Linked DNA regions of Homo sapiens: regions 1, 3 and 4 are each linked to region 2. Evidence: fine-mapped expression QTL. A gene starts in region 2. Each other region holds a variant in brackets. All regions are shown on one strand. Distances are between the middles of the regions. Region 1 holds the start of STAB1 (stabilin 1). Region 2 holds the start of NT5DC2 (5'-nucleotidase domain containing 2). Region 3 holds the start of SNORD136 (small nucleolar RNA, C/D box 136). Region 4 overlaps ITIH3 (inter-alpha-trypsin inhibitor heavy chain 3).

What was found.
Region 1: its variant is fine-mapped to the expression of NT5DC2 in whole blood (TOPMed, PIP above 0.99). The same link has a PIP of 0.9 or more in blood mononuclear cells and monocytes.
Region 3: its variant is fine-mapped to the expression of NT5DC2 in skeletal muscle (GTEx, PIP above 0.99).
Region 4: its variant is fine-mapped to the expression of NT5DC2 in whole blood (INTERVAL, PIP 0.98).

What each region holds. Positions count from the first base shown.
Region 1 is chr3:52,492,124-52,497,268 of GRCh38, forward strand. NISCH (nischarin) reads left to right here. Exons shown (of 21, transcript NM_007184.4): 21 at 1-945. The coding sequence ends at 359. STAB1 (stabilin 1) reads left to right here and starts at 3,215. Exons shown (of 69, transcript NM_015136.3): 1 at 3,215-3,368. The coding sequence starts at 3,291. The variant T/C (reference allele first, on the strand shown) is at 3,127.
Region 2 is chr3:52,531,249-52,536,393 of GRCh38, forward strand. It overlaps NT5DC2 (5'-nucleotidase domain containing 2), which reads right to left and starts at 2,609. Exons shown (of 14, transcript NM_001134231.2): 1 at 2,258-2,609. The coding sequence starts at 2,489. RefSeq lists an enhancer at 1,719-1,848 and silencers at 1,979-2,068, 2,099-2,448, 2,509-3,008, 5,043-5,145.
Region 3 is chr3:52,686,548-52,691,692 of GRCh38, forward strand. It overlaps GNL3 (G protein nucleolar 3), which reads left to right. Exons shown (of 15, transcript NM_014366.5): 2 at 222-280; 3 at 699-836; 4 at 955-1,068; 5 at 1,562-1,645; 6 at 2,527-2,659; 7 at 4,045-4,157; 8 at 4,398-4,524; 9 at 4,995-5,082. It overlaps SNORD136 (small nucleolar RNA, C/D box 136), which reads left to right and starts at 2,340; the gene lies at 2,340-2,486. It overlaps SNORD19 (small nucleolar RNA, C/D box 19), which reads left to right and starts at 2,693; the gene lies at 2,693-2,768. It overlaps SNORD19B (small nucleolar RNA, C/D box 19B), which reads left to right and starts at 4,191; the gene lies at 4,191-4,283. It also overlaps SNORD19C. The variant T/C (reference allele first, on the strand shown) is at 1,999.
Region 4 is chr3:52,800,144-52,805,288 of GRCh38, forward strand. It overlaps ITIH3 (inter-alpha-trypsin inhibitor heavy chain 3), which reads left to right. Exons shown (of 22, transcript NM_002217.4): 10 at 395-520; 11 at 822-1,003; 12 at 2,191-2,376; 13 at 2,524-2,663; 14 at 3,712-3,866; 15 at 4,583-4,591. Among named protein-coding and RNA genes, the nearest start is that of ITIH3, 7.9 kb to the left of the region's middle. The variant G/A (reference allele first, on the strand shown) is at 2,178.

The DNA of each region.
Region 1 (5,145 bases), 39 kb before region 2:
ACTGTGTCCACTACCCACTGCCCGAGTTTGCCAAAGAGCCGCCGCAGAGAGACAGGTACCGGCTGGACGATGGCCGCCGCGTCCGGGACCTGGACCGAGTGCTCATGGGCTACCAGACCTACCCGCAGGCCCTCACCCTCGTCTTCGATGACGTGCAAGGTCATGACCTCATGGGCAGTGTCACCCTGGACCACTTTGGGGAGGTGCCAGGTGGCCCGGCTAGAGCCAGCCAGGGCCGTGAAGTCCAGTGGCAGGTGTTTGTCCCCAGTGCTGAGAGCAGAGAGAAGCTCATCTCGCTGTTGGCTCGCCAGTGGGAGGCCCTGTGTGGCCGTGAGCTGCCTGTCGAGCTCACCGGCTAGCCCAGGCCACAGCCAGCCTGTCGTGTCCAGCCTGACGCCTACTGGGGCAGGGCAGCAGGCTTTTGTGTTCTCTAAAAATGTTTTATCCTCCCTTTGGTACCTTAATTTGACTGTCCTCGCAGAGAATGTGAACATGTGTGTGTGTTGTGTTAATTCTTTCTCATGTTGGGAGTGAGAATGCCGGGCCCCTCAGGGCTGTCGGTGTGCTGTCAGCCTCCCACAGGTGGTACAGCCGTGCACACCAGTGTCGTGTCTGCTGTTGTGGGACCGTTGTTAACACGTGACACTGTGGGTCTGACTTTCTCTTCTACACGTCCTTTCCTGAAGTGTCGAGTCCAGTCCTTTGTTGCTGTTGCTGTTGCTGTTGCTGTTGCTGTTGCTGTTGGCATCTTGCTGCTAATCCTGAGGCTGGTAGCAGAATGCACATTGGAAGCTCCCACCCCATATTGTTCTTCAAAGTGGAGGTCTCCCCTGATCCAGACAAGTGGGAGAGCCCGTGGGGGCAGGGGACCTGGAGCTGCCAGCACCAAGCGTGATTCCTGCTGCCTGTATTCTCTATTCCAATAAAGCAGAGTTTGACACCGTCTGCATCTTCTAAACCAAGGGTCACTGGGATCCCAGCAGGGCTTCCGTCCAGGGCGTGGTCACATGGGGGAGGGAGGGTGCCCTGGAGACAGGAGGGTGAGGGGTTGGGGGAAAGGAAGGAGCAGCCCTCCAGGAGCCAGATGCTTCTTGGAACATGGGAGGCATGACAGGGCCATGGCCTCTCTGGACAGTGCCATGCTGGGCTGTGGCTAAACCATGAGCGCAGGGCAAACAAGAAACTCCTCAGGGCACCCCTGACACACCAGCCGCTGCCCCTCTGCCTGGGTGCGGGGCATGCCACCCTCTTCAGGCTGTCCTGCAGGTCTTATGTGTCAGTCACCCCTGGGCCCAACCCCACCTGTTTCACAACCCCTGTTGAGAGTGGGGGAGGGGCGAGGAGGACAGAGAGATCCCAGAGTCTGAGGTGGCTGGTGGGGGCCGGGGCATCTCACCAAGGTGGCCCTTGAATGGCAGCAGGGGAGGTCTGTGGGGAGGTGGACCCAGGTGGTGGACAGTGGAGGGAGGGGCACATACCCATCTGTGTCTGTCTTCATGTCCCTGAAACATGAGGCTCATGGGCCCCTCCCTGAGGGTTGCTTCAGGGAGCCTGCTGAGGTAGGACCTGGGATTTTGGTAGCCAACCCCATGCCACACTCTTCCCCAACCCCATTCCTGCTGCCAGAGCAGGGCCTATGAGCCCCACATAACTCATCCTGGCCCAGCCAGGAGCCTCAGTCCCCAGGACCTTGGGGCAGCCAGGCCAGGCAGGGCTGTGGAGAGGTGGGTGGCGTGGCCAGCCTGGGTCCCAGGCCTGCTTCTGTTCCCCCGTTTCCCTTGGTGCCAGCAGAGTGGGGGTCCTGCCTGGAGGACCCTTCACCCCCAGGAAGACTGTGGGTGTGGGGAATGTGGGGAGGGTTTCCCCTTGCAACCCCCATCCCAGCCAGATCTCAGGCCTGCCTGAAGGCCCCTCCAAACTGATGGGAGTGGAGGTGTGCTGGGGAGGAGAAACTTTCCCCAACCTGGCCTTTACCAAAGCATTTACAGATGGCCACCGGGCTCTGGCCCACTCCTGTCTCCCCAACTGTTACGCCGTCTGCAGTTGGGGGTAGTGACAACTGGAGGCAAGGCCCACCACGTGCAGCCCTGGCACGCAGAGGCCCTCAGCCTGGGCCCACTGCACCTCTTGGGGGTGCTGGCTGTGCAGGCAGTGGTGGCTTCAGACAGTAGCCCTGGGATTGGATATGAAAACTGATTACCTCAGACAAGCTACCCAGCCCCTCTGAGCCTCAGTTTCCCCACCAGTAACAGAGGGATCATAAAAGTAGCCACCTCCATTCATTTATTCCTTCTGCACACGTGTATTGAGCATCCACTGTGCGAATCAGCCAGACAGCGCCCCTACTCTTCCACAGCCAATGTTCCAGGGGAGACAAATGAAACAAGCCAATGTCAGCTGGTGGCTGGTGCTGCCAGGTGAACCAGGTGCAGGGCCACCTGCAGGCTGAGACCAGGGAGGCGCTCTGAAGTGGTGGCCCTTGACCTGAGACCACCTGTGAGAAGGAGCCAGAGTGTGACAATCTAGGGTAGCAGCACATGCCGGGAGAGCTCACTGAAGGAGCAGAGAGGCCTGCGCGGCTGGAGCAGACCTGTCTGGGGAGAGTTCAGAGAGACCAGCCAGCTGGAGAGGGGTTTGGAGGTGCTGCAGCAAGCTGGCTGAGCATGGGCTGCTGAGTGGAGGGCAGATAGGGAGGCAGGGAGGGTGGATGGGGGTTGGCGGGCAGGACCAGCGGCTCAGGAGTGGCTGGGGCTAGTGAGGGGATGTGGGTCTGGTGGGCTAGCAGGGTGCCTGTAGCGAGTCAGAGCCCCATGAGCGCCCTGGAGTTGGAAAGGTGGAGGCAGGAACAGACAGACCCATTCAGGGGCTGCCCTGCCTTCCGCCGACCAGCACCCCAGGAGCCTCTGAATGAAACACACTGGGCTCGCAGGCGGGGGACTCGTTCACGTGTGCCTTTGGATTTGCTTCAGAACCTCTGATAGAGCCCAGGTCCCGGGGCTCATGGTGGCCTGGACTTCCAGGTTGTGATGCCAGGAGGGTCCCAGCCGGGAAGCCCCGAGCAGGGCTCAGGCCGCCCATGGGGGGTCAGTGGCCAGCACCTTCCCTTCCGCCTGCAGGCTGCTGATA[T/C]GCAGGAGGAAATCCTGGCGGGTTCCTGTGGGGGTGAGCTGGCGGGGCCTCCGGGCTGCTTTTAAGGCCACTGCCCGCCCCGTCCCGCCTGCCTGTGCTGTGCCTGCCTCCTAGAGCTCATTCCCTACGCCCCGACTCTGTCCTGGACAGCGTGCCCACCAGCCATGGCGGGGCCCCGGGGCCTCCTCCCACTCTGCCTCCTGGCCTTCTGCCTGGCAGGCTTCAGCTTCGTCAGGGGGCAGGTAAGTGTGAGCCAGTCGCAGGGGCACACGGCGTCTGGGCCCTGCCGGCCAGCGGTGGGAACAGGGAGGGACTGACATGGAGGGGCAGGGGCCTGGGGAGAAACCGCAGCTGGCGCCTGTCTGGCCTCTTAGCAGGCCTGGGGGCTGGCTATTGTGCCCACCTCCCCAGTCTGAGGTCTGCGTCCAGCCACCCAGGGTTCAGGGGTGTGTCAGCCCACCCTCCTCTGACTATGCGGGGCCGGGGCTCCCCAGCGTGCAGCTGAAGTGTACAGAGGCAGGCCTGTCCTGCCCTTCTGGCCCAGACGGAGGCCCAGGTCTTATGTGGCCCTCACCTGGGGGTTGAAGATGTGATCACCTCCAACCCCCGAGGACTACAGATTCACGTGGGGCAAGTGTGTGCACATGTGTGTGCCTGTGTCCAGCCCCAAGAGTACCGGGAAGCAGAATGAGTCACTCACCCTTAGTGTCCGGGGTTATGAGCAGCTGGCAAGGACACACTTCAGCCTCAGAGCTGCCACAGAGCAGCCACAGCCCCGGGCAGGTCCCCTTGAATCCTCACAGCCTCGGGGCAACTCCTCCTGTCCTCCTCGTGAGGAACCCGAAGCCCTAGGATGATGGGGACAGGCCATTCCCACTCTAAAGCCATGCTCCAAACCCCTGCCTGTGATGGCCATCCGTGTGTGCTGGCGAGCAGACAGGGTCCTGGTATGCAGCCACAGCCAGCCCCTCGGTCAGGTCCCTGTGACAGGCTCCTGGCTGCAGGTCTGCTCAGGCCCCATGGTAGGGGCCTCTGGGAGCTTCTGGAAGAGCCTCCCACCCTGGTGATGGGGGTAGTCTCTCTCCTGTGAGGCTGAGCGTGTCTGCCTCCTGGAGCAGCAACCACTATCCCCATGGCACAGATGGCCAGACTAAAGTCCAGAGCGGGGAGGACTTGCCCAGGATCCCACAGGCAGTCCAGCCAGGGGCCTAGGCCCCCTGCCACCATCAGGCGCTTTCTCTTGGATGCCTGTGGTCCCTCAGAGAGGCAGCAGGGAGAAGGGCCTCACCAGCTTCAGGACCAGGCCAGGGCTGGGGACAGGAAGATATGAGGCTGAGAAGGCGACAGTGATGGGGGAAGAGCCAAGGGTTCCAGGGCTGTGCTGAGAGCCCTGCAGGTAAGCTCCTGCCCTCCCCTTAACTCAGTTTCCCCCTGTGTACCATGCAAGGGAATTTCAAAGGCCTCCGCCACCTCCTCATGCTCTGGGCAGTGAGGACAGAGGTCAGTGAGGGGCCTCAGATTCGAGTTTTTTCCTTGTCAGAGACCTATGGCTCTGACCACTCCTTGTGGATGGGGCTGCAGCAGTGCTGGCCACTCTAACACAGCTACGTGGCCTCTATCCCAGCACCCTGCATAGCCGAGAGCCACTGTAAGTGCAGTTGGCCCTCTGTATCTGTGCACCCTGTACTTGGGTTCAACCAACCCTGGATTGAAAATATTCAGGAAATAAAATGGCATCTCTACTGAACATGTTCAGACTTTTTTTCTTTTGAGGTGGAGTCTCGCTCTGTAGCCCAGGCTGGAGGGCAGTGGCGTGATCTCGGCTCAGTGAAATCTCCACCTCCCAGGTTCAAGCGATTCTCCTGCCTCAGCCTCCCGAGAACTGGGATTACAGGCGCCCGCCACCACACCCAGCTAATTTTTGAATTTTTAGTTTCACCATGTTGACCAGGCTGGTCTGTAACTCCTGACCTCAGGTAATCCACCTGCCTCAGCCTCCCAAAGTGCTGGGATTACAGG
Region 2 (5,145 bases):
TGGGTGTAGACAGGAGTCTTCACTTGGATGCAAGTGAGACAGTTGACTGCAACGCTCTAGGGAGCTGCTTCTGAGCCACCCCTCAAGGCCCAGGGTTCTGGTGTGTCACTAGGACCCTGGGCCTTGCCCTTCCCATGGCCCTGAGTTCCCGGATACCAACTGTGACTGTGACTCTTGGTGCAGAAGACCTGGGAGGGTCTGCTCGGCAGTGCAGCCCCTTGCTGGCACAGAGTCCTGGTTAGGTCCAGGCCTTCACCTCTGCCCCTAAGGATGTTCCCAGGGGCCCAGGGGCAGACAGTCCTCCCAGGAACAAAGCAGGATGTGGAAACAGCCACAGGGCCTGGTGGCCTGGCCTGATTTCTAGACTAGAAGAACCTTGGCTCTGGGGCGACAGAAGCCTGTTCCCTTCCATAGGTGGTGTGGGTGGGGGGTGGGGGTGGGGCAGCTGAGGGTGTGTCCCACTCAGCATGTCCAGCAATTGCCCTCCTTTCTCCTCAGCCCTAGCTCCCACACCTGCCCATGGTGCCAGGTCCCAGGGCCAACTGCTCCCTAGCAGCCGTGACACTTGTGGATGCCTTAGAGGCTTGTCTTGTTCAATCCTCACTCCCATCCTGTGAGGCAGTCCCACTTATTCCCCCATCGTCCGGAGGAAGAAACTGGGGCTCAGGGAGGTGAAGTCACTTGCTCCAAACCACCCAGTAACAGGCACCGGGGTTGAGATCACCATTCAAGTCACCCCACCTGCATTAATCACTCTGCCTCTCAGCCTAGCCTCCCAATGTCACCACACTGAGGCCAGGTGGGTGGGGGCTGGGGGACTGAGGGACCTGTTGCACTGCTCTCAGCCCGTGGGCATTAGCCCAAAGCGGACCTCGGCGCCCAGAGGTGTGAAGCTGGCTCCTGCTGGTGCTCACCATGGGATCTTGGTGGGAATGACTTTGCTCCTTGTATGACAAGAGGAGCTTAGAGGGCTGTGAGGCTCCAAAGATGCAGGCAGGCCCAGGAGGACAATGTCCAGTAGATCCCCGTAGTCCTCCCTGAAACCTCCAAGGCAGGCTTCTCAGGATACTCTGAGGGTCTTCTCCGGGCCCAGAGCAAAGACTTCTTAAATAACGCTGGGCCGCCCCTCCACAGACACAAACTCAACCTGGGACCTCGAGGGTGGACAGATGCCCAAGGCTTCAAAATGACCATTCCTCAGGGGCCTTTACCATCCTGCCTTTACTGGTCAAGAAGTGATTCTCCGCCACCCCACAAAGCCGGAGTGAAAACCCCTGTCTAGCCAGTTAGAATCTTCCAGACAGGGCTACTTTGTTTTATCAGACAACAAAAGCCACGTCACCCCTGGGGGTTCCTCCGGAAGCTCTCCTGCCCTGCTTGGCCTGGTTCCAGTCATCACCCAACCCTGGGACAGAGAGGCCCCAGGACTGCGTTTCATGCTTGAGAGAGGGTGAGACTTGCTGGGGGACCACCCAACTGGTCAGTGATAGGGTCACGACCCAAACCATATCTGTCTGCTGCAGAAGCAGGGCCCCACTAGACCCACGGAGACAAGCAGGCAGATGTCCAGCACTCTCAGCTCTGGGGCCTCACTAGTGCGCCCCAGCCGGCCCCCTCCAAGAAGGGGCCTCAGCCTCCTCACGCCATTTCTCAGAGGGAGAGAGCAGGGACAGGGAGGTTAAGTGCCCTTTGCAGCCCTAGTCTGGGCTCCAGGGGGCGGGGGTGACTTGGCTTCTCCCAGCCTTCGCTGCCCGGGCTGAGAGGGGGCCGGACCTCCAGGGCGACATCGAGGTGTGTCTGGGAAGTCCAACCGGTGTCCCCTTTGGTCCGGCCGTCCCTAGGAGCCCGTTCCGCCCGGCGCCGCTCGCTGGCTTTGTCCACAGCACTCTCCCGCCCCAACTAAGGGTTGGCCGAGAACAAGGGGTTGGGGGCGTTTCCACCGCGGCTTCACGGCAGGCGGGACCCCGAAGGAAGTCGGCGGGGGCCCAGCACTCCGGCAGCCGCTCGAGGAGCCCCGAGCTCCTGCAGACCGAGCCGGGGAACAAACCTCCCGCCCGCCCCCGGGCGTCGGGGCGCCCCAGAGGCCCCCGGGATGAACGGCCGGAGCTTCTCGCGAAAAGCCGCCCGGCCCTTGCGCTCCGGGGCCCTGGCGAGCCCCACTGGGTGTTTCCCCGGAGGAGCGGCACCCTGGGGCTCGGTCCGTCCATCAGTCCACGCGGAAGACACCCCGGCGCACGTCCCGCCCCGGCTCACCCACCGTGCACCAGTCTCCGCATGTCCTGGTAGCGAGCCCATAGGTGCGCGCTGAGGTCGGCGCCGCTGGTGGGTGCCTGGGCGGGCGCGGAGCGCGGGACGCCGGGGCAGTGGGCGCCGGGACCCGGGGGGCCGCACCCAGGGCAGGAGGGCGAGGACGAGGCGGCTCGCGGCCCGCCGTGGCCTCCGCACAGCAGCCAGCGCCGAGCGGCCGCCCGCAGCCCCGCACCCGCCATGCCCACCGCGCGCCGCCCGCCGCCCGCGCTGCCCTCGGCCAGCCCGCCGCCCGCCGCCCGCCGCCCTCCGACTGCGCGCCCGCCACGGTGGCCTCGTGCTCCTCACGGCGGCCGGCCAATGGGTGCGGCGCGCGGAGCCCGGCCTGCCAATGGGCGCGCCCCTCGGCCCGGGGGGCGGGAGGCCCCGGACCCGGCGGGGCGGGGCGGGGCGGGGAGGGCTCCCCAGCCCCCTCCCCCAGCCAGTCTCCGGCGCGGTCCGGGAGGACTCTGCGCCCCCCTTCGGCCGTCACGCCGGCGATGGCGGCGCCTTTCCCTGGCCCCAGCCCTGGAAGTCAGCGGGCCTAAGAGCGGCCGTCCCTGAGAGGCTCCGGACGGCCGAGGCGCCGAGAGGAGACAGCCGGAGCGCGACGGGTACCCCCCGGGCCCCCGGGTCCTCTGCCGCCCTCTCCGCTCCCGGGTCCGCCCGCCCTACCCTGCGCCTCTGGATGCTTCTGACCCCAGATCCTCCGCTCCTCCCCCTAGTCCTGGTGCTCTCCTTTCCCGGGGTCCTGGTCCCCGGTCTCTGGGCTCGGACTGACTGCCCACTGACCAGAGCCCGGGCCAGTCCACTCACTGGTCTAACAAATAAAGAGCCCTTCCCGCGCTTCCCGGTGCCAGGCCCACGCTGGGGGAGGCCGAGGGGCCTGCAGGGCAGCCGACGTCCGCTAACCAGGTGACTGGGCCGTGCGCTGCAGGGTTGTGGGCCACGGTCACTGCGCCCGCTTGGTTCGGACCTCGGCAACTGGCCGCACTGACCCGTCAACTCCCGGTTTCCCGGCGCACGCCCCTCGTGAGATGCTGTGGTCTTTTCTAGCAACGTCGACAGGCTTTCCAACAAAATTCCTCTTTCCTGCGCAGAACCGCTCTCCACTCGCATTTCTTCTGCTCAGATCCGTATTCCGAGCCCGCACGCATACCAGGCTGTGCTCAGGGTCCGGAGGAGGCCGACCCAGTAGCCGTGGGCCCTGTCGGAGGGGAGCCAGCTGGGCGCGCGTTGTTTTCTGAGGTGGCCGCGCTGTCTTTCAGGGTGTGTGTACATTCGAAACTCCACTGAACCTTGATTGAAGACCTACAGTGTGGCAGTCCATGGCCTGGGGACTGGTAAGGATTGAGGCCGTAGGATGGGCTCGAGTGTGGCGGTGTCCCCAGGGCCCCAGTGAGCAAGTGGGTGTGCTGGGAACCTGGCCACAAGTGAACCTCCTCCAGGCGAGGGGATGCCCTGCAGCATCCAGCCGTCAAAACCTCCTGTAGAAACGGGAGCGAGCATCAAGCCTGTGTGTGTGCATGCTTGGGCGGAGTCTACCCGGAGGAGAAAGAGGCTTCCGGGCTGGCCCTCCAAAGCCGGTTGTACAGGCGGCAGCTCAGGCTGCTCACTGCGGGCCCTATGACCCTTTCTGGGGCCCTGCTTGCTCTCTCCAGTCTGCTTTTGTATATTTTGTGTCCATATCACCAAATCGTCTCATTGGTTCTAAGCTTTCATTTACCTTCCTTAGATTGTCTAATAGTTGTCTCCTTTCTCAAAGCTGTTCCTGCAGTTTTTACTTTAGTCCTAGGTAATGGGGTGACAGCCCCTTTCAGTTATCTTCAGCAAGCACAGCAGCATGAGAAGACGCAATTACAAGTGAAGTCTCTTAAGTCAGAGCCCTGCTTCTACCTGGCATAGTCTCTTAAACTGTCAGTTAAGAGACTACATATAAACAATACACGTTCAGACTCGGCGCGGTGGCTCACGCCTGTAATCACAGCACTTTGGGAGGCCAAGGCAGGAGGATCTCTTGAGCCCAGGAGTTTGAGACTAGCCTGGCCAATATAGTGGGACCCCCATCTCTACAAAAAATTAAAAAATTAGCCGGGCGTGGTGGTGCACGCCTGTAGTGGTGGGAGGATGGCTTGAGCCGGGGAGGAGGGGGTTGCAGTGAGCCGAGATTGCGCCACTGCACTTCAGCCTGGATGACAGAGCGAGGTCCTGTCTCAAGAAACAAACAAAAACCATGTTTGGGAATACATGTGAAGAGCGAGGGCTCTGCCAATCATTATCATCATAATGAATATTCTAACTAATATTAATCAGTTACTATGCTCCAGGGTTGTGTTCAGTGCATCATTCCTATTACCGCACTAAATTATCACAGCGTCAGAACAAGGCCTCCGTTTTACGGCTTAGGGAATTGAGGCACAGATGGGCTAAGGGAGCACCTGTAGAGCAGGGATGTGGTTTGGTAACAGAGTGCATGCTCTTTATACTGCTCTTCTGCGATTATTGTGAATAAAGCGCCTACAAGTGCCTGTGGAACTGTAAGTGCCCCATACAAGATAGCTTTTATTAATTTTAGGGTTCTCACGGGGCGCTTACTTAGATTTTTGCTGTGATAATTGATAAAGTTCAGCTTTCAACACTCCATATCAAATTCTGTTACTTTAGAAGTCTAGGCACCAATCACGTCTCCGAAATAAACGCAAGGCATTGCATAATTGCATTTTGGAATGTGGTGCTGTACATAGTCCATCAGAGAGGGTCATCACTTCTATCTGGGTATTAGGAATAAAAATGGCGGTGGCAGAGTAGGGGGCGCGGCTGCCAACTGCGAGCTCAGACCTGCACTGGGGAGGCAGGGGG
Region 3 (5,145 bases), 160 kb after region 2:
TATTGTGAGGGTAAGTGCAGGGAATTTTGACTCCATTCTGGATCTACTGAATTTAATTCTCTGGGATTTGAAAGTAGCACGTATGTTTGCATTAGGCATTTCGCATTAGACTTAACGTTAGGTTTGGTAGCCAATAACACAAGAAAAGGATATAACTCCATAGTGCGTTAACCCAGAACTAATCATTTGGGTTAACAGATTTGTGATGTGTTTCTTTGTAGAGTTAAAGAAAGCAAGTAAACGCATGACCTGCCATAAGCGGTATAAAATCCAAAAAAAGGTAAGTGTAGTGCTTGAGAGAGCTGTACCAAACACATTGCTAAACTGATTTTGCCCTGTTCCTTTGCGGGAAAGTCTGGGTTAATGTGATTTGGTTTTGGGAAATGGCATTGGATAGACTGACCATGGGCACAAGCTCTTAGGCATCAGGAGTGCAGCTGTGAGAAAGTGCAGTGATTTGGTGATAAGTCTCTAAATTTGTTCAGCATGTTAATCTCTGCATAGAGAGCCTTCTAGTTACAATTTCTTGCTGTTTTATACTTACATATGCATTACTTTGTAAGATTCCAATTAAAGCTCCATTTTCCTAGGACATTTTATAGGCATAACTAAATTGCAGCCAGATTGGTTTCTCACTTGAATTCTGCTTAAGTATAAAGATATTTTTGTAAGCAGACAAAATCTCTTTATTTTAATAGGTTCGAGAACATCATCGAAAATTAAGAAAGGAGGCTAAAAAGCGGGGTCACAAGAAGCCTAGGAAAGACCCAGGAGTTCCAAACAGTGCTCCCTTTAAGGAGGCTCTTCTTAGGGAAGCTGAGCTAAGGAAACAGAGGGTAAGTTATGTTAGCCAGAATTTTCATTGAGTGGTGTAGTGTGTTATGTGTGATATTTTTCAGAGTAAGGTAACAACACTAGTCACTGGTTCACCTATTTCCCTTATGGCTCTGACAGCTTGAAGAACTAAAACAGCAGCAGAAACTTGACAGGCAGAAGGAACTAGAAAAGAAAAGAAAACTTGAAACTAATCCTGATATTAAGCCATCAAATGTGGAACCTATGGAAAAGGTATGATTAGGTCTCTTTATGAATGAGAGATCAGGGGTTTTGATTTTGGTTTTTTTGCTTGGGCCTGAGTGCAGTGGCACAATCACAACTCACTGCAACCTGGACCACCCAGGCTCAAGCAGTCTTACCACCTCAGTCTCCAAGTAGCTGGGACTACAGAAGCACACCATCACGCCTGGCTAATTTTTTTTAGCAGACACGGGCTTTCACTATATTGCCAAGGCTGGTCTCAAGTGATCCACCCAACTCAGCCTCCCGAAGTTTCTGGTATTACAGGTGTGGGCTGTTGTGCCTGGCTGAGAGATGAGTTCTGATGCAGAAATAAAAGCACATCCACAGGCTGCTGAGCTTCTTGGGAGGAAGACAACTGAGTTCAGACTCCATCTTACCTATTTAACAACTGCAAGGGCTGCTACTCAGCTGTGGAAAATGGAGTTAGAGGTTACAGTTGCTCTACTTCTAATTTTGTGTTATTTCCCCCTTTATCCTCTAGGAGTTTGGGCTTTGCAAAACTGAGAACAAAGCCAAGTCGGGCAAACAGAATTCAAAGAAGCTGTACTGCCAAGAACTTAAAAAGGTATCTTAGCCTAGGTCAGTGTCTGACAGTAGTAATGAGGTTTAAAAGACTCAAGTCATTTTTTTTTTAACCTTTTAAGATGAAGGGTGCATGTGCAGGTTTGTTATATGGGTAAACTTGCGTCATAGGGGTTTGCTGTACAGATTATTTCATCACCCAGGTATTAAGCCTAGTACGACATTAGTTATCTTTCCTGATCCTCTCCCTCCTCCCACCTTTTCACCAACAAATCATTTCGTGACTCGACTCTAGCTTATGCTGTTTAATGCCTTTCCTGCTATGTTTACCTGACGGAAATAGTTTCTTTGGTTCTAAATATTTGCACAAAACTGGTTCTGCCTGTAAGCATGATT[T/C]ACAACATTAAAAAAAAACGTTGACATAGTGTTGAGATTGAGAAAGGTACATTGGAGTAAGCAGTGTCAGGCTAAAGGTCTCTAAAGTACTCTGTTGAAACCTAAGTGAAGGAGGACAACTTGGTGTAGTTGCTCTCCAGCACTCCCATCCCCAACATCCATTTTCCCAAGCTCACTCCCCCATGGATAGAACCTGACTGCCCCTCAGCAGCTTTTGGCAAGGCCAGAAGGACCTATCAAACTATATAATTCACTATGGGAGGATTCAGACAGGGATATTTGCATTTTTGAAATCCATCTTGATCAGAGACTGCTGAGCAAGCCTATGTTTTACTTTCCTGTGTGAGAAATGATGAGGGTCAACATTCTTCATACCAAAGTGAAGACATGAGATCCAACTCTGAGCTCACCCTGTTGCTAAATGGATAATGCCAGTACTCTCTTGTGGAAGGTATTACCAGAACAAGGGATGTAGTTCTGATCATTTTCTCCTTGATAATGTAGTTCTGGTCATTTTTTCCTTGATAGGTGATTGAAGCCTCCGATGTTGTCCTAGAGGTGTTGGATGCCAGAGATCCTCTTGGTTGCAGATGTCCTCAGGTAGAAGAGGCCATTGTCCAGAGTGGACAGAAAAAGCTGGTACTTATATTAAATAAATCAGGTGAGTAAAGAGGGTACCCTTTGTCTTCTGTGTACATGGGTGAGGTACGAGGAAACAGTCTGATAGTCACTGAAGACTGATTAGATCCAACTCTGATCTCAGCAAAGCCAGAGTACGTGCACTTTGCCAGAGACAGTGCTAGGCAGTGGGGAGCCAGGTGACTTTTACAACTGACTCAACTGGTTTCTACTATTCTTTTGCCATTCAGTATTTACCATCTTTTAAATAAAGAGTGTAAGCTGCTATACCCAGCTTATTGTGTAGTATATTTCATCTAGGAAGTGATGACAGTGTGACAAATTCCCCACACCTACACAATGTCGGGTATTAGTTCAAGAGTGAAATAAATTGGAACGTATGTGACAAAATATTTAAATGAAATGCATAATTATGCATCTGAGTTTGAGCAGCAGGAAAAAGAAAACCCAGAACAGAGAATTACAAAGCAGAAAATGGGAATGAGATCTAAAATTGTTGTTGGGGTTAAGAAACAATTGGCTGCTTGGGAGGCTGAAGTGGGCACATCACTTGAGGCCAGGAGTTCGAGAAAAGCCTGGCCAACACGGCGAAACCCCATCTCTACTAAAATACAAATATTAGCCGGGCATGATGATGGGCACTTGTAGTCCCAGCTACTCGGAAGGCTGAGGCAGGAGAATTGCTTGAACCCGGGAGGCGGAGGTTGCAGTGAGCCGATACTGTGCCACTGCACTCCAGCCTGGGCAACAACACTTCGTCTCAAAAATGAAGAAACAATTGGCTGCTAGCTAAAGGTAAATTCTGGAAACATAGCTCTAGGGTTAGTAGGGTTGTAATCCAGACGTTGAGTCTGTCCTGAAGTTTTCAAGTGAGCAATACAAGGGGAATTGAAATAGAGAAGTGCAGATGCTGAGCTCTGTTAAGATACGGGCAGTATGGTAGGGGAGCTTACCCTGCCCTGATTTTCTAGTTAAATCCTTTTGAAAGGACTGGGAAAATGTAAACCAGAGTAAAATCTATAGTTGCCAGATTTTGCAAATGCATCTCAACAAAATAGCCACATTGGAGCAAATGTCTTTTTCTTTTTTTCTTTTTGAGATGGAGGCTTGCTGTGTCACCCAGGCTGGAGTGCAGTGGCGCCATCTCAGCTCACTGCAAGCTCCACCTCCCGGGTTCACGCCGTTCTCCTGCCTCAGCCTCCCGAGTAGCTGGGACTACAGGTGCCCACCACCACGCCCAGCTAATTTTTTTGTATTTTTAGTAGAGACGGGGTTTTATCGTGTTAGCCAGGATGGTCTTGATCTCCTGAACTCGTGATCCGCCTGTCTCGGCCTCCCAAAGTGCTGGGATTACAGGCGTGAGCCACCGTGCCTGGCCGCAAATGTCTTATTTCTAATTGCTATCAGATCTGGTACCAAAGGAGAATTTGGAGAGCTGGCTAAATTATTTGAAGAAAGAATTGCCAACAGTGGTGTTCAGAGCCTCAACAAAACCAAAGGATAAAGGGAAGATAACCAAGGTATCCTTTATTAGTGGTAAGAAATGTGATTCTTTCAGATTTTGGTTGAAATATGATGAGTGTACAAAATCTTGATTTAAGTGAATGAAAAATTACAAGATCCAACTCTGATTTCAGCCAGAGATCATCTGAAAGGCAATGTAGTTATCTTAAGAGCTGGGCTCTGGAGCCTGATTGCTTGGGGTTTGTTGAAATTTATCAGGTAAGTTGCCAGAATAATTCAACTATTTGGAATTTTAGCGTGTGAAGGCAAAGAAGAATGCTGCTCCATTCAGAAGTGAAGTCTGCTTTGGGAAAGAGGGCCTTTGGAAACTTCTTGGAGGTTTTCAGGAAACTTGCAGCAAAGCCATTCGGGTTGGAGTAATTGGTGAGTTTCAGTTCATTACTTTTTACTTTTTAAGTGTTGAAATAGTTAAGAAGTTTAGCCAGCTCTCCAAGTGCCCAAGCAGCAGTGTATGGAGTTGTTGTCAAGTAAAAGGCTCACTCAAATACTAGCTTCTTGCTTATACCTTACTGAAAGCACATAACCACACACAATTTAAAGAAAAAAACTTACACAACTGCTGCCAGATTCAGGTTTTTTGTTGGGACTGATTACTGTAGGAAGCTGGTTTCTAAAAGTTCTTGGTTTGTTTGAATTTATAGTATTTTCCTGCCTTTGCATTACTTGTGCAAGAAATGAAGAAACTAAAATTGGTCTTAGTATTGAAGTGAAGACACTGAGATCCAACTCTGATCTTGCCCTAAACATCAGGGAAATGGAAAATTAGGCAGTGAAAATTTCATAAGTGCCAACATATAATGCTTTTTATATCTGGATTTCCCATTTATTTGTAGGTTTCCCAAATGTGGGGAAAAGCAGCATTATCAATAGCTTAAAACAAGAACAGATGTGTAATGTTGGTGTATCCATGGGGCTTACAAGGTAAATGGAGGTGTCCATAATTGTAATATTATAGTGACACACTATTTTATTTTGGTTATCTCA
Region 4 (5,145 bases), 270 kb after region 2:
TGGTATCTCACAAGTCCCAGCAAGATAAGGCCACAGAGAACCCTTCTTCTTGGCCCTGTTTCATATGGAAAATGGCACGATGTCTACACTGCTCCCCTCTCCTCCCAGCAAGAGGTACTGGGAGTCCATCCAACTCTGCCAAAGGGCTTTCACAATCACCATGTGCTTTTCGTCTTCACCATGTGCCTTTCATCCCCATTTGAAAGTGGAAGTTGTTTGTTTGTTTGTTCATGTGGTGGTTCATTCATTGTTTGCTGAGTACCACCATGGGCTGGCAGATAGGGTCCTTGGGCACATGAGTGGGGCCGGCTGTCCCGGCCTCCTCCGCTCCAGCCTGTCTGCACACTGGCACCCTGAGGACACCCTCCCACGGTGCTGTCTGTCTGTGTCCCAGTGACCAACATCAATGACGGGCTGCTGAGGGGCATCAGTATGCTGAACAAGGCCCGAGAGGAGCACAGAATCCCAGAGAGGAGCACCTCCATTGTCATCATGCTGACTGATGGGGATGCCAATGTTGGTGAGGAGCACGGGCATGGTTTTGAGCTAGGGCTGGAGTGCTTGGCTGCTGCTCCTGGCTCTGTAGCTGGCTCATTGGAAAACCTGGGGCAGCTCTTCCCTGGGTTCCCTGTGGTCTGGGAGCCCCTCAAGGGCAGGGTCCTGCCTCCCTCTGCCAGGGCTCTCCACCACCTGCCCCACAAGGGCTCATGGTCGTGACTCCAGCAACTCTGCATGTGCAGGAGTCCGGTCTCCCCAGACAGAGCTGGTCTAGACCATCCCCAGGGCTGGGGCTGGACTGTGAACACCCCCTTCTCCAACAGGTGAGAGCAGACCCGAAAAAATCCAAGAGAATGTGCGGAATGCCATCGGGGGCAAGTTCCCCTTGTATAACCTGGGCTTTGGCAACAATCTGAATTATAACTTCCTGGAGAACATGGCCCTGGAGAACCATGGGTTTGCCCGGCGCATTTATGAGGACTCTGATGCCGATTTGCAGTTGCAGGTATGCCTTGTCTTGCACACTTCCGGGCATAAGGAGCTCACTACTTCCTCAGACAGCTGCTCCATAAGGTGACAGTTCTAGTTATTAGGAAGAGCTTCGTCTTGGGTCAAAATCCACCTCTGACTATCTCTTACCCATCAGTAAAGATTCTGATTTTGTCCTTGGGCTACACAACAGGCCCGTTTCTTCAACAGGATTATCAGAGCAAACACAGGACATCTGGTTCAATATGAATTTCTGATAAATAATGAATTTTTGTAGTGTAAGTATGCCCCAAATATTGCACAGGACATTGTATTAGTGTATGGCGGCTGCCATACCAAAGTACCAAGTGGCTTCAATGAGAGAAACGTATTGTCTCCCAGTTCCAGAGCCCGGACATCCCAGATCCATGTGGCGGTGGGTTGGTTCCTTCTGAGGGCTATGAGGGCAGATCTTTCTAGGCCTCTTTCCTTTTCTCCATGGCTTATCAATGGCTGTCTTCTCCCTGTGTCTGCACATGTCTTCCCTCTGGATGTCTGTGTCCAACTCCCCTTTTAATAAGGACATCAATCATATTGGATTAGGGCCCATACTCATGACCTTATTTTGTAGACCCTATCACCAAATAAGGTTGAACTTTAGGAGTACGCTATTCAACCCATAACAGACATACCTACACTAAAAAATTATTCATTGTTTATTTGACCTTCAATGTAGCTGCACGTCCTGTCTTTGCATTTGCTGAATCTAGCAATTTTGTTCCTTCTCTAGGCAGGTAATGGCATCTCCACCTCTGCAGGGCGACCACCCCATTCCCTCCCTCCTCTGTCTCCAGATCTCTGCACTCCTGTCCACATCACTTTATCATCTGCCTCTCTTACTTCCTTTTCTCCTTCTTGCTTTCATTCCAACAGACATTCCTTAAATACTTTCTTTGTGCTAAGAACTCTGTCCTTTCATATTTCTTTTTTTTTTTAATAGGAAATACTTCTGAAACTGTCCTTTCTAGTCTTCCTCGTGTCTATCTGGGAGCAGGGAGTTGCCGGGGGGAGGCCCCCACAGACTGAAGGACGCAGTCAGGGACAGGCAGAGTGAACATTAGGAGCCATTAGGACGGGCCCAGCCCTGGGGCATGGATGCCCAGCTGCAGCATCAGTGGGAGCCTGACCTGGGGCTTGAGATGACTGGCCCC[G/A]TGCGAACTTCAGGGCTTCTATGAGGAGGTGGCCAACCCACTGCTGACGGGTGTGGAGATGGAGTACCCCGAGAACGCTATCCTGGACCTCACCCAGAACACTTACCAGCACTTCTACGATGGCTCTGAGATCGTGGTGGCCGGGCGCCTGGTGGACGAGGACATGAACAGCTTTAAGGCAGATGTGAAGGGCCATGGGGTGAGTGGGGACAGGGCCTGGAAGTGTGCTGGGGATGGGGTATCAGCAGTGGTAGGGCTCTGGCCTCATGAGGGTCCAGGAGTGGTGGCCCCTGAACCTGATCCACCCAAGCCTCCAGCCCCTTGCCTCCTTCTACCCCCACCCTAGGCCACCAACGACCTGACCTTCACAGAGGAGGTGGACATGAAGGAGATGGAGAAGGCCCTGCAGGAGCGGGACTACATCTTCGGGAATTACATTGAGCGGCTCTGGGCCTACCTCACCATTGAGCAGCTGCTGGAGAAGCGGTGAGCAGAGTCCCAGCCCCCACCTGTGCCTACCCCTGGCTGGGCTCCAATGCAAGGGCACCCCCATACGCAGTCCCAGCGGTCCTGCCCTCTTCTTGGGCCAGCCCAGGAAGTGTCTGTAGAGCAGTCTGTAAGGAACCCCAGGCCGCCACTCCCCATCCTGTCAGCCCCAAGGCTCAAGCTGGCAAGTCCCCTGGCCAGCAGCCTGGGAGTGCCCCGGGGTAGGGGGGACTTCAGCACCCTGCTGCCCACACTGGGCATGGCCCAGGGGTGGTGAGGCTGAGTGGAACTGAAGGCCGGGATCCCAGCCCTCAGTGCCCAGAGGGCAGAGCTGAGCCCACTGAGAGGGTCAGTGTTGGTGTGGGTGGGATTAGACTGTGAAGCCGTTAGTACACAATCTAGCACATGCTGAGTGCTCTGCACATGGACACCATTGCGAGTGGCTGTTGTAGCCCCTTATTTTATTTATTTATTTATTTATTTATTTATTTATTTATTTATTTTATTTTATTATTATTATTTTTTTTTTTGAGACGGAGTCTCGCTCTGTCGCCCAGGCTGGAGTGCAGTGGCGGGATCTCGGCTCACTGCAAGCTCCGCCTCCCGGGTTCACGCCATTCTCCTGCCTCAGCCTCCCAAGTAGCTGGAATTACAGGCATGCACCACCATGCCTGGCTAATTTTTGTATTTTTAGTAGAGATGGGGTTTCACCATGTTGGCCAGGCTGATCTCGAACTCCTGACCTCAGGTGATTCACCCGCCTTGGCCTCCCAAAGTGCTGGGATTACAGGCGTGAGCCACCATGCCCGGCCGGTCCTTACGTTTTATAGGTGGGGAAACCAAGGTCCAGCAAGGAAACAGGGCTTGTTCACATGCCCCAGGGAGTTGTGAGCCAGTCTTCTCTGAGCCCAACTGGGCTGTACCCTGGGGGACCCCACAATGGGGAAGGTGGAGTGGGGATCCCCAGCTGTGTCCACTGCTCCAGTGCAGGGGAAGTGGGCAGGGTGCTGCTCTCCAGGCTGTCCTCCTGACTGGCCCCTCCTCACAGCAAGAACGCCCATGGCGAGGAGAAGGAGAACCTCACGGCCCGGGCCCTGGACCTGTCCCTCAAGTATCACTTTGTGACTCCACTGACCTCAATGGTGGTGACCAAGCCTGAGGACAACGAGGATGAGAGGGCCATTGCCGACAAGCCTGGGGAAGGTGGGGATAGGGATGGAGGCCGGAACCCGGAGGCCTCCTGTGCTGGGCACCCTACCTGGGTGTCCAGTGGAGGAGTGGGCCAGGCTGGGGAGACCCAGACCTGCTGAAGTAGGGCATCTGAAGGAAAACTGGCCACGGGATGGGGAAAGTGGGGTGGAGCGTGAAGCAGTCAGCATGGACAGTGGGGTGTGGGGTGAATAGGAGCCTCTGCACCTCTAAAGGGAAGTGAGTAAAGGGGGCACACTGCCCATGGGGCATTTCAAGGAAAAGGACTGAGGCTGCAGCATGGAAGGGCTTAGTTAGACAAGAAGAAGCACTTCCAACATGAAAGGCCTGGAGCAGGCTATCAGGCACCTGGAGATTGTTAGGGGAAGAGTCCCTGAGAGCTGGAGGCTGGGACCCCCTCAACCAGACCCCAGATTGCCCTACTCAACAGGGGGTCCCAAATGCCCACTGCAACTAGGTACAGGGTCTGTGTGTGGTGGTGGAGGATTGGCATTGGGAGACATGGGAGGCAAAGAGCTGGGCCTGGCCAGGCCAGGCCTCTGGCTTCCAAGAACTCCTAGTTCCAGGGGACACCCAGTGGGGGAAGAGCTGGCTGCTGGGAGGCCCACAGCCTAGGGCTGGTCGGCCAAGCAGCCAGCTCTGGTCCCTGCTCACAAGTGCCCTATGGCTTCTAATGCATTTCTCTTCTTCCTCCCTTGCTGCACCTGCAGATGCAGAAGGTAAGCCTTTAGCCAGCCACCGGGTTGGGCATTATGGAAGGGAGACAAGAGAGAACTGAGGAGGCCTTTCCAAGCAAGATAGGACCCCCAGCCATGGGGGCACACTTGGGACACCTGGGCTCAGGCCCAGCCCTATTGCCAAATCATGAACGTGCCCCTCTCTGAGCCTGAGGATCCCTGTGAGTTAATTGGGGGTGGCTTCCCTTGCCCAGGGAGACACAATCAGTATGACAGTATCTATGACCTGCAAAAATGAGCAATTTAGCATGTCAGTCATTTATACTTCATTAGTCCCATAGCAACCCTCCAAGAGGGCCCTTTTATGATCCCCATTTTACAATGGGGAAATTGAGGCACGGGGGGTTAATTTGCTCAGTCTGTTTGCTCACAGACTCAGCAGATGGCCAAGCTGGTACTTAGGCCAAGGCAGTCTGGCCCCAATGCCCATGCTGGGAATTGCTGGGGATCACAGTCCTCTGTGCCTCTCTCACCACAAAACTGGAACCTCACAAACTCCCTGCCACTAGGCAGGGCCTCCCCAGCCCCTACTGGCC